3 linked regions of the Homo sapiens genome follow. The protein of the gene in region 1 purifies or fractionates together with the protein of each later gene. This does not show direct contact. Each region holds a gene or a part of one and is shown in the gene's direction. Other genes may lie near its edges. The genes, in order: CSNK2A1, ARK2N and GRAMD1B.

What was found.
Region 2: the proteins of CSNK2A1 (region 1) and ARK2N purify together in Homo sapiens (affinity purification with mass spectrometry; 4 studies listed by BioGRID and IntAct, with this or other methods). This does not show direct contact.
Region 3: the proteins of CSNK2A1 (region 1) and GRAMD1B purify together in Homo sapiens (affinity purification with mass spectrometry; 4 studies listed by BioGRID and IntAct, with this or other methods). This does not show direct contact.

What each region holds. Positions count from the first base shown.
Region 1 is NC_000020.11:471,987-475,037, reverse strand, and holds the end of CSNK2A1 (casein kinase II subunit alpha), read left to right. Parts: 3' UTR 1-2,540; downstream 2,541-3,051. UniProt on the Homo sapiens protein: Catalytic subunit of a constitutively active serine/threonine-protein kinase complex that phosphorylates a large number of substrates containing acidic residues C-terminal to the phosphorylated serine or threonine.
Region 2 is NC_000018.10:46,243,510-46,247,163, forward strand, and holds part of ARK2N (protein ARK2N), read left to right. Parts: intron 1-3,654. UniProt on the Homo sapiens protein: AMPK substrate important for exercise capacity and skeletal muscle function.
Region 3 is NC_000011.10:123,433,202-123,436,855, forward strand, and holds part of GRAMD1B (protein Aster-B), read left to right. Parts: intron 1-2,232; coding exon of another isoform or gene 2,233-2,266; exon of another isoform or gene 2,267-2,514; intron 2,515-3,654. UniProt on the Homo sapiens protein: Cholesterol transporter that mediates non-vesicular transport of cholesterol from the plasma membrane (PM) to the endoplasmic reticulum (ER).

The sequences.
Region 1 (3,051 bases):
CCTAAATGTTGTATTTGCTCTATAATTATTTGTTAAACTCTCCATTTACGTTTGGGGCACTTCTCAGTATATTTGCTAGAGTTCAAATGTTTAAAAGTTTACAAAATGAAAACTGAGCAGAGTAAGACAAGCCAAAAAAGTATTAACTCAGCAGGAATGGGAAAAGTTATGAAAGGAGGGAAAACTAAATATCATACTGCTGGTTCAGCTGTGATTAGAATTTACGTAGTCATAATGGAAACACTGAATACTGGTCTAACCAGGATTACAGTATGATGACAATGGAAAGAGGAGTGATGGGAAATGCTGGCATGTGTGGTGGTGTTGGTAACAGGACAAGCGGTCTAAGCTCTAAACTCTCATCATTTATAAGGGGAACTAATGCCTAAAACTGAAAAATCAAACAGTTGCATGTTATTTTGAGATTTTTTAAATTATTGTTAAGATAGTAGCAGTATTTACTTTTAAAACTATATTTATGTATTACTCTGGTGAAAAAGCAACTACTTTTAATAAATGGATATTTATCTTGAATGCATCCACTTCCTCCCATTCCCGTTGCCAAATTCCTCATCCCAGCCACCATCCTCTCTTGCTTGGAGTATCATAGCAGATAACTGGTCTTGATGCCTTCCCATCTCGTCTCAATTCCTGATTCATCTGACACCTGCAACCAAAGATCTTTCAAAAATAAATATTCTAGTCCAGGCACAGTGACTCATATCTATAACCCCAGCATTTTGGGAGGCCAAGGCCCGATGATCACTTGAGGCCTGGGTAACACAGCGAGTCCTCTGTTCTACAAAAAATGAAAACATTAACTAGTGTGGTGGTGTGTGACTATAGTGCTAGCTACTGGGGAGGCTGGGTGGGAGGATACGTTGAGCCCAGGAGTTGGAGGCTGCAGTGAGCTATGATCACATTGCTCTCAGTGAGACCTGGCTGACAGAGTGAGAACCTCTCTCTTAAAAATAATAAATAAATTTTATCTCAGTCCCTTGCTTAAAAGCCTTTCAAAGACTAGATCACTTGCAATGTTGTTGTCTCCTCCCAAGGGAGTCATTCCTCCCTTCCTCTTTGTTGACAGAGCCCCAGTTTGAGGGACAGCGGGATATCCACCATGCTGCTGTGAGACTCGGGCAGTTGTGACTGGTTTAGAAGTGGATACACAGGGAGAGGTCTTCTGGAAAAGGTCTTCTGGAGAGCTGAGATCAGAAGACAATCAACTGGCTTCAAATCTAAGGAGAGACAGGCACAAAATGGAAGAGATGACATGGGCACTGGTTACCTGGTAAACACAAGTGGACACTGGTGAGGGACTGGGTCATGGAGACTGCAGTAGTCTTTACCCTTTTCAGCGTTTTTCACCATGAACCCCACTGGGAGCACACAGAAGATTGGAGAAAGTTTTAATAAAATGTCTCAAGATCTGGAAGAAGACAATGGCAGCTACTGTGAAAGGATCACAGTGCTCCACCCAGACCCTTCCCTGTATCCCCTACCGGACAAAAGCCTTAGTCTGTGGAGGGAAGGACACCAAATCCTGTCACCCCCTTGGATGAAGCTCCCTTGCATCTGGGGGAATGAAACAGGAACAAAACAAAACTTTCCCTGGGCAGGGGCAGGAATACACACTGGGCCCAGAACTGGGGGAGGAACAGGAGCACTAAGGAGGACATAACCCCAAAATCAGAGACACAAAGGGCCTGACAGAGACTGAGACTTGATCAGAACAGAGAATTCCCTCCTCCCCCACCTGCCAATGGTAAGCTGACAAGCCTTGAGTTAGAAGTAAAAATGTTACAGGAGAGAGACAAGAGTATGGGAAGAAGACCCTTTCTGAGGGTCACAAAGGGAGGACCTAAAGCTGAGCAGGGAGCACACATGGAAGGAGAAAATCCCTCTGGCAGGCCAGCCTGCACCCTCAGTCCAAGGTGTCATTGGAGGAACTGGAAGCTGCTGCATTGGGGGTAACCATAGCAACAATAAACCTCAAACCTAGCCCAACTCTTTTTTTTATTTACTTTTTAGAGACAAGGTCTTGCTCTGTTGCCCAGGCTGAAGTGCAGTGGTGTGATCGCAGCTCACTGCAGCCTCAAACTCCTGGGCTCAAGCAATCCTCCTGCTTCAGCCTTTGTAGGAGATTGGTCAGGGTGGTGGGAGAAATTATAGGAAAGACACAAACCTTCTTGGAAGGCCGAGAGGTTTTGCAAAAGCTTCAGAAAGAAATTATGGCTGAAGGCAGCCAAATTCTTATCTGAAGCCTGAGAGCAAAGGGCAGATAACAGGGGAGTTGTATAGGAACTTACCTAGATAAATTTGTTTATTCCTGTGTCCAGAAACCAACCTTTGATCATTCACACACAGGACTGCTGTCTACTTGGGATGTTGACAATGTTTATTGCCCACAAATTGTGTTTGCTCCAAGCCTTTGTCATTAAATTTGTGCTAAATAAATGTGAGGGCCACCAGCTTAAGGGGACTGCTAACTCTCTTCGGCCCCTAGTGCTGGCAGTCCCCTAGCCTGCTCTCTCACTGAATATCTGTGTCTGAGTACTCCTTTCATCTGTCACTCGGCCAAAGTCTGTGGGACAGACTCGGCAGGTGATTCCCTGTGTGAGGAATGCTGCAACAGATCACGACGGAACCCTCGAAAATGAAGGTGAAGAGACTGCGCAGTCAGTAAGTCATTGGTGCCTGTTCAGCATTTCCAAGTTCAAAGGAATTGCTCAAGCTAGGGACGATCATCATGGGATGACAGTTGTCATCATGGGACAACAGTTGTCAGCTCAACAGCAACAGTATATAAAAGTAGTAAAACAAATGCTGAAAGTTAGCAGAGCCTCAGACAGGCTCAATTATGGGACCTAATGCAAACTGTTGTTTCCCATAACCCATGGCTCTCGGAAGAAGGTACACTAGACGTAGAGCTCTGGGAAGAAATTTTAACATCATGAGCAAGGGCAATGGGTCTCAGTAACATCTTTAACGTTATGGGCTTTAGTTAGGACTGCTTTGGTCCCACTCTACACAGAAAAGCCTAAAAAAGTA
Region 2 (3,654 bases), on another chromosome or scaffold:
TTATCTTGCATCCAAAATATATATTTAGTTTTAGTTTTAACCTAGGCAAAAGACTTGAACCACATGCAGGGATTAAAAAGTAAGTCGAAATTAGAGAAGCTACTGATCAACAAAAGACCTGAATTTTCCATTTCAATTCTTGCCATGTGTTTGCTTTTTTTAAGTTGATGCTGGAATTGAACACTGTAGTGGGTGATTTTGAACCAGTGGCCACTTAGAAACTGCATGTCCTCAGGTAAATTATATAAAGCCTCAGTTTTCCCTATCTACAAAACTGGGGCACAACCTTTATAGTATCTACTCCAAAAGGTTATTGTTACCACTAAGTGAAATACAGTGTGTTTACTACGGAGGACAGCACATAGTAGGCCCTCAGAAATGCTAACCAGCATTATGTTAATATGCTGAAGTAGACTGAGTAAGGAAGTGATTAGTGGCTCAGTCACTGGATTTCTAATTACTCTCTTGCACTGCAACGAGTTGCTCTTGCTACAAGTACTTCTTAAATTTTGCCAGAGCGTAGAAATTACCCAGTGTGTTTATAAATATTCACACTCCTAGGTTTCTCCTGATGATTCTGTCAATAAATCTGAAATGGTTTCTGGGAATCTCTTTTTAATAATAGCCTCAGGTAACTCTTGTATCCAGCATGTTTAGGAAACTGTATTAATATATCTGAAAATGGCTTCATTTTTGTTGCTAGTAAGGGCTCACTGCAAACAAATGTAGTTGGGGCAAGAAGAAGCAGAAGTCTTGGTGAGGAAGGCTTATAGCTGTGGTAAACTGAACTTATTTAGGATTTTTTTCCCTGGGAAGTTAAAACTTTAAATACCTTATCTTTTCCATCAGCCTTCTTGTCAAGAAGGTAGGTTCTGAGCATTTTCCCCATCCTTACAATAGGGATGGTAATCTTGATTTGTCCCTAACATGGTGGCAGTACAGAGAAATGAATCCTGGGTTTCCTGTTCCTAGTGTAGGGTTTTTAATAATTAGACCAGAATGGCCATGTTTCAGAATCAGTATAGTGAAGGAGATGAAGTATGGTCATGTTCTTCATGTTTATCTGCATCAAATTGATGGTAAGAGTTTAGATTTTTTTTTTTTTTTTTTTTTAAGAGGGAGTCTCCAGTCACCCAGGCTGGAGTACAATGGCACATTCTGGGCTCACTGCAACCTCTGCCTCCCGGGTTCAAGTAATTTTCGTGCCTCAGCCTCACAAGTAGCTGGGATTACAGGTGTGTGCCACTGCGCCTGGCTAATTTTTGTATTTTTAGTAGAGACAGGGTTTACCATGTTGGCCAGACTGGTCTCGAATTCCTGACCTCCAGTGATCCGCCTGTCTTGGCCTCCCGAAGTGCTAAGATTACAGGCATGAGCCACCACACCCAGCCAGATTTTAGATTTTTGAGCTCTTCCTTCACTCTTTTTTGTTGTTGTTGTTGGAGATGGATTCCAGCTCTGTCGCTCAGGCTGGATGCGGTGGCAGTCTCCGCTCATTGCAGCATCTGCCTCCTCGTTCAAGTGATTCTCCTGCCTCAGCCTATCCAGTAGCTGGGATTACAGGTACCCGTCACCACGCCCCGTTAATTTTTTTATATTTTTAGTAGAGATGGGGTTTCACCATGATGGCCAGGCTGGTCTTGCCCTCCTGATCTCAAGTAATCTGCCCACTTCTGCATCTCAAAGTGCTGGAATTTCAGGCGTGAGCTACCATGTCCAGCCCTCTTCCTTCACTTTTTAAGGTTGTTTAACGTGCTGTTTAAGGAACTAAAAGTAGGCTGGGTGCTGTGGCTCACGCCTATAATCCTGGCATTTTGGGAGTCCGAGGTGGGCAGATCACGAGGTCAGGAGTTCGAGACCAGCCTGTCCAATATGGTGAAACCCCATCTATACTAAAAAAAATACAAAAATTAGCTGGGCACGGTGGCGTGGGCTCCTGTAGTCGCAGCTACTTGGGAGGCTGAGGCAGGAGAATTGCTTGATCCCGGCAGGTGGAGGTTGCAGTGAGCCGAGATTGCACCACCTCTCTCCAGCCTGGGTGACAGAGTGAGACTCTGTCTCAATAAAAAAAAAAAAAAAGAAAGAAAAAAAGAACTAAAAGTAGTAATTTGCTGTTTTTAAAGCTAAATGAGTAGTGACTTATTTTTTTATTTTTTTTATGCCTAGCATGCGACTGTCATACAGTATGTAGTATTACTTTCTCTTCAGTGTGTTGCAAAGCTCAGGCCTAGTTCTTACCCAGTGGATTTACAGTTTAAAAAGTAGCTGGATTATTTCCTTTAAAGACAGAAAGAAACTGTTTTCCATGATAATTTAGTTACTACTTTTTCTGTGCTTCTTTTTCTTACCCTATTTTGATAACTACCTTTTCTTGGTAACTTTTTCTTACCCTTTCTTGTTGAAAAGGTCTGTAGTGGGAGGACAAAATTTAGAATTTTCTCATATAGTGAAAGAAGTTATCTTTCCAAAGACCTACACAGGCAGAGACCTACACAGAGACAGCCAGCTGTCACAATAGCTAAATATAAGTGCTCTGCTTTATTTTCAGTTTAATATATGGTAATTGCGGTATTTACATTTTTCTCTACAGGGCTTGTTCTTGTCTTAGAACTGGAAAAGATTACTACCACTGACAGTATTTGAAGAACCTCATAGCATCTTTGGCTCACTTTTCTGTATGCTTTAGGCACTGTTCTGCCATTGGAATCCTGTGAAGTCCTCCATGGGGGGTGAGGCGGGGTGGGGAGGGGCAGAGCAGAAAAGGCCCAAAGGCCAGAGAATGTCAGGTTCTATACTGGAGCTCCCAAAGGAATGTGTGGGATGCTGAAGAGGGTTACAGTGACAGAAAAGGACTAATGGTCCTGGCTCTGAAATAGAAGAAGGAAGAGGCAGAGGCATCCCAGAATGCCTTTGGTGTCTCTTGTAGAGCACGGCATCTCATTGCCTTGGTGTGGGTCCTAGCTGATTTGTTTTCTGTGTGGCACAATTTATCTAAGGCTCTGACAGGAAATTTGGCAAATGTCTCACACTATTAGTCTAGGAGTTGTTAACATTCACGAGGCAGTCTGTATTTAGCACCCCCATCACTTTCTCATGCCTCTTATCTTGCACTAGTATATTGACCAAGCATTACAGATAAGAGCAGACCCTAGGCTAGGCGCGGAGGCTCACACCTGTAATCCCAGCACTTTGGGAGGCCGAGGCGGGTAGATTACCTGAGGTCAGGAGTTCGAGACCAGCCTTACCAACATGGCCAAACCCCGTCTCTACTAAAATACAAAATTAGCCTGGCGTGGTGGTGCATGCCTGTAATCCCACCTACTCAGGAGGCTGAGGTGGGAGAATCGCTTGAACCCGGGAGGTGGAGGTTGCAGTGAGCTGAGATCACATCTTTGCACTCCAGCCTGAGCAACAAGAGCAAAACTCCATTTCAAAAAAAAAAAAAAAAATAGCAGACCCCAATTTAAAGTGACCAGTTTTAGCATATCATCTGGGTTTTGTAACCATGTTAAATACCAGCAGGTTTGGATTGCAATTTTTATGGCAAAAATTGCACTACCAGAATTGTTTGGATTATCTAACAATGTGGAAGGAATATTACTAGTTTCTAGATCCATAATGAATGAATAAAGTTAGAAGAATCTGAAATATTGG
Region 3 (3,654 bases), on another chromosome or scaffold:
CCCTGTCTCTACTAAAAATACAAAAAATTAGCCAGGTGTAGTAGCGGGTGCCTGTAATCCCAGCTACTCGGGAGGCCAAGGCGGGAGAATTGCTTGAACCCGGGAGGTGGAGGTTGCAGTGAGCCAAGATCGCGCCATTGCACTCCAGCCTGGGCAACAAGAGCGAAACTTCATCTTAAATGAATAAATAAATAAAGTAGTTTGTCATGGCTTGTCGGCTTTTCCCTCCAATGTAAAAGAAACTAAAAGAGACCTTCTTTTGATCTTGAGATTCTGCCATATATACTGAGGACAAAATATGGTAAAAAGAGCCGGGTGCAATGGCATGGCCTGTATTCCCAGCTACTTGGGTTGTGGTGTGAGGATCACATGAGCCCAAGAGTTCAAGGCTTTAGTAGGCTATAATGGTGCCTGTGAATAACCACTGCATTTCAGCCATGGTGAGACCCCCACCCCCAACGCTTAAAATGTTACGTGCGTGTGTGTGTGTGTGTGTGTGTGTGTGTGTGTGTCTTTGTGTGTATGAAGAAAAAAATCTTGCATTGCTGGCTAGGATGGGGATGACAGTAGATTTGGTTAGATTTAGGAAGGTATTCCTGGTTTCGAGAGTTGTCTATGTGTGTAGTGGAACCTTCATTTTGTTGGATTTGGGGACATATCCTTAAAATTTGGCAGGATTTTCATCTAGATGTAGTTCAGGCAGTTATTTTAAGTGGTGACTTTTGGATTAGAAGAACCTATGTATCAGCCGGGCGCAGTGGCTCACGCCTGTAATCCTAGCACTTTGGGAGGATGAGGCAGGCAGATTGCCTGAGCTCAGGAGTTAGCCACCAACTTGGGCAACACGGAGAAACACCGTCTCTACTAAAAATACAAAAATTAGCCAGGTGTGGTGGTGGACACCTGTAGTCCCAGCTACTCGGGAGGCTGAGGCAGGAGAATTGCTTGAACCTAGGAGGTGGAGGTTGCAGTGAGCCGAGATCTCGCCACTGCACTCCAGCCTGGGCAACAGAGTGAGACTCCGTTTCCAAAAAAAAAAAAAAAAAAAAAAAACCACCACCAACAAAAAACAAGAACATATGTATCTGAAAAGGCAGACTCTGGATTCAAATTCAAATTCGTGTGACTCACATCTACTCTTAGCTACTGTTATACTGCCTTCTGTTGGAATCTATTTGGATTGTGTGTAAAACAAAGCCCCATCATTTTTAGGCCTCGAAGATGAAAGGCTTCCTTCCAAGAAAAGCAGCAATCAAGTGAATAGGTGCTCGTAGATACCACCAAGTGGCCTGAGAAGGAATTGGTGGCGGGGTGTGGTAGCTCATGCCTGTAATCCCAGCACTTTGGGAGGCTGAGGAGGCAGATCATTTGAGGCCAGGAGTTCGAGACCAGCCTAGCCAACATGGCAAAACCCTGTTGCTACTAAAAATACAAAAATTAGCTGGACATGGTAGTGCGCGCCTGTAATCCCAGCTACTCAGGAGGCTGAGGCATGAGAATTGCTTGAACTTTGTGGGCAAAGGTTTCAGTGAGCTGAGATCACACCACTGCACTCCAGCCTGGGCGACAGAGCAAGACTCCATTTCCAAAAGAAAATAGAATTGGCATTTAGAGGCAATGGAGTGCAGGGAACATTGGACTTAATATCAGAAGACAGCTGTATATTTAAGTTCTATCATCGATTAGCTATGGAGATTAGCTTGAGCATTTCACTTTACCTCCATGAGTTTCACCTTCTTCATTTGTGGAAGAGGATCTCTGTGGGTTAATGGGAAGTCTGAAGAGTAGTGAATGTGAAAATGTTTTGCAAACTTCCTCTTGCTGTGCAAGGGTGAAGGCTTATTTCATTACTCTGTGAGTCTCTCACATGGAATGGATGTTTGCTTAAAAGTATGAGGTTACATACTCACGTGTCCTGGAGCAGCACCTGAGCCTCCTCACACAATTCAGGATTTGGAAATGATGGTTGGAAAATGGCTCTGCTCTGGCCTGGATTAGGGAGGATTAGCATACCAGGCCCAGCATGACGTCTCCACATTCCCCACCCCAAATCTCCTGCTCCAAAAGAGAGAAAAACACCTTTCAGGCTTGCTATGAAATTCAGCGTGATGTGGTAGAAGTTAAGTGGCTGAGAGGGCCATAGCTTGTGGATTTCTTTTAATTTTTGTTTTTTCATTATTTGTTTCATTATTTGTTTGTTTGTTTGTTTTTTTACTTGTCACTGACTTGAAGCTCAAGCTTGCGGATTTTCACTGCACAAAGTTGAAAATATGAAGAGGATTAGGAGACCCTTTTCTTCTCCTTAAACCCTAGGAAGGAAGAAGTGGAACAAATGGTAAAGACAGCATGGCTTACTAACTTTCCAGTGTTCACTGGAATACTCCAAGACCAATCATGTTCATCTTTGTATCGTCACAGCACTGTACCTGACCTCTTACAGTGATCTATAGATCTATAGATGTTTGTTGATGAGTTAATAATGAGTAAATAAATGATTCCTTTTTCTCTACTGTTTAAAGTGAAATTCTTTTATTCATGAGTGTGGGAAAATTTCCAAAAGGAGATGAGTACAGAGCTGAGTTTTTAAAAACAGCTTTATTGAGATATAATTTATATAATATACAATTCACCTATTTAAAGCATAATTCAGTGGTTTTTAATATATTCACAGCTATGTACAACCATCACCACAGTCAGTTTTTAAAAACGTTTGTTGCCCCACAAAGAAACTCATACTTTTTTTTTTTTTTTTTTTTTTTGAGACGGAGTCTCCCTCTCTCACCCAGGCTGGAGTGCAGTGGCTCAATCTCGGCTCACTGCAGCCTCTGCCTCCTGGGTTCAAGTGATTCTCCTGCCTAAGCCTCCTGAGTAGCTGGGATTACAGAAGCTCGCCACCACGCCCAGATAATTTTTGTATTTTTAGTAGAGACAGGGTTTCACCATGTTGGCCAGGTGGGTCTTGAACTCCTGACCTCATGATCTGCCCACCTCAGCCTCCCAAAGTGCTGGGATTACAGGCATGAACCACTGTGCCTGACTGAAACTCATACTTTTTGGCTAGCACCTTCACCCTCTCCATCCCATTTCCCCAGCCCTAGACAACCACTGATCTATAGAGAGCTGAGTTTTGAAGGGTTAACAAATGCCTATAGGTGAAAGCAGTTTGGATGTGTTGGCTTGAAGATAGAGATGGATGACCAAATGTGATCTTGTTGAGGAATGTGGAAAAATGAAGGTGGTGAGGCTGACAGACCGAAGGTGATTTATGCCAAAGAGTTTGAATTTCAATGAATCACTCAGTCATCAAACAGGTATTGAGATCCTATATGCAGAGCGCTTCCTAGGCAAAGTGAAGTCAATTCAATGAGGAGCTGTCGTAGATTCTGGAGCTTGGGAGAGACACTCTCAAAGTGTTGCTCGAGGCAACTACTTTCTGCTGTTCCGTGTAGTGGGGAGGAAGCGTGGGGAGGTGAAGGCCTGGAGTCTTGCTCTTTTCTTTCAGTGGTCTAACTGCAAAGCATCATCTTAACTACCATTGAACATAAGACGGCACAATTTTTTTTTATTATACTTTAAGTTTTAGGGTACATGTGCACAATGTGCAGGTTTGTTACATATGTATACATGTGCCATGTTGGTGTGCTGCACCCATTA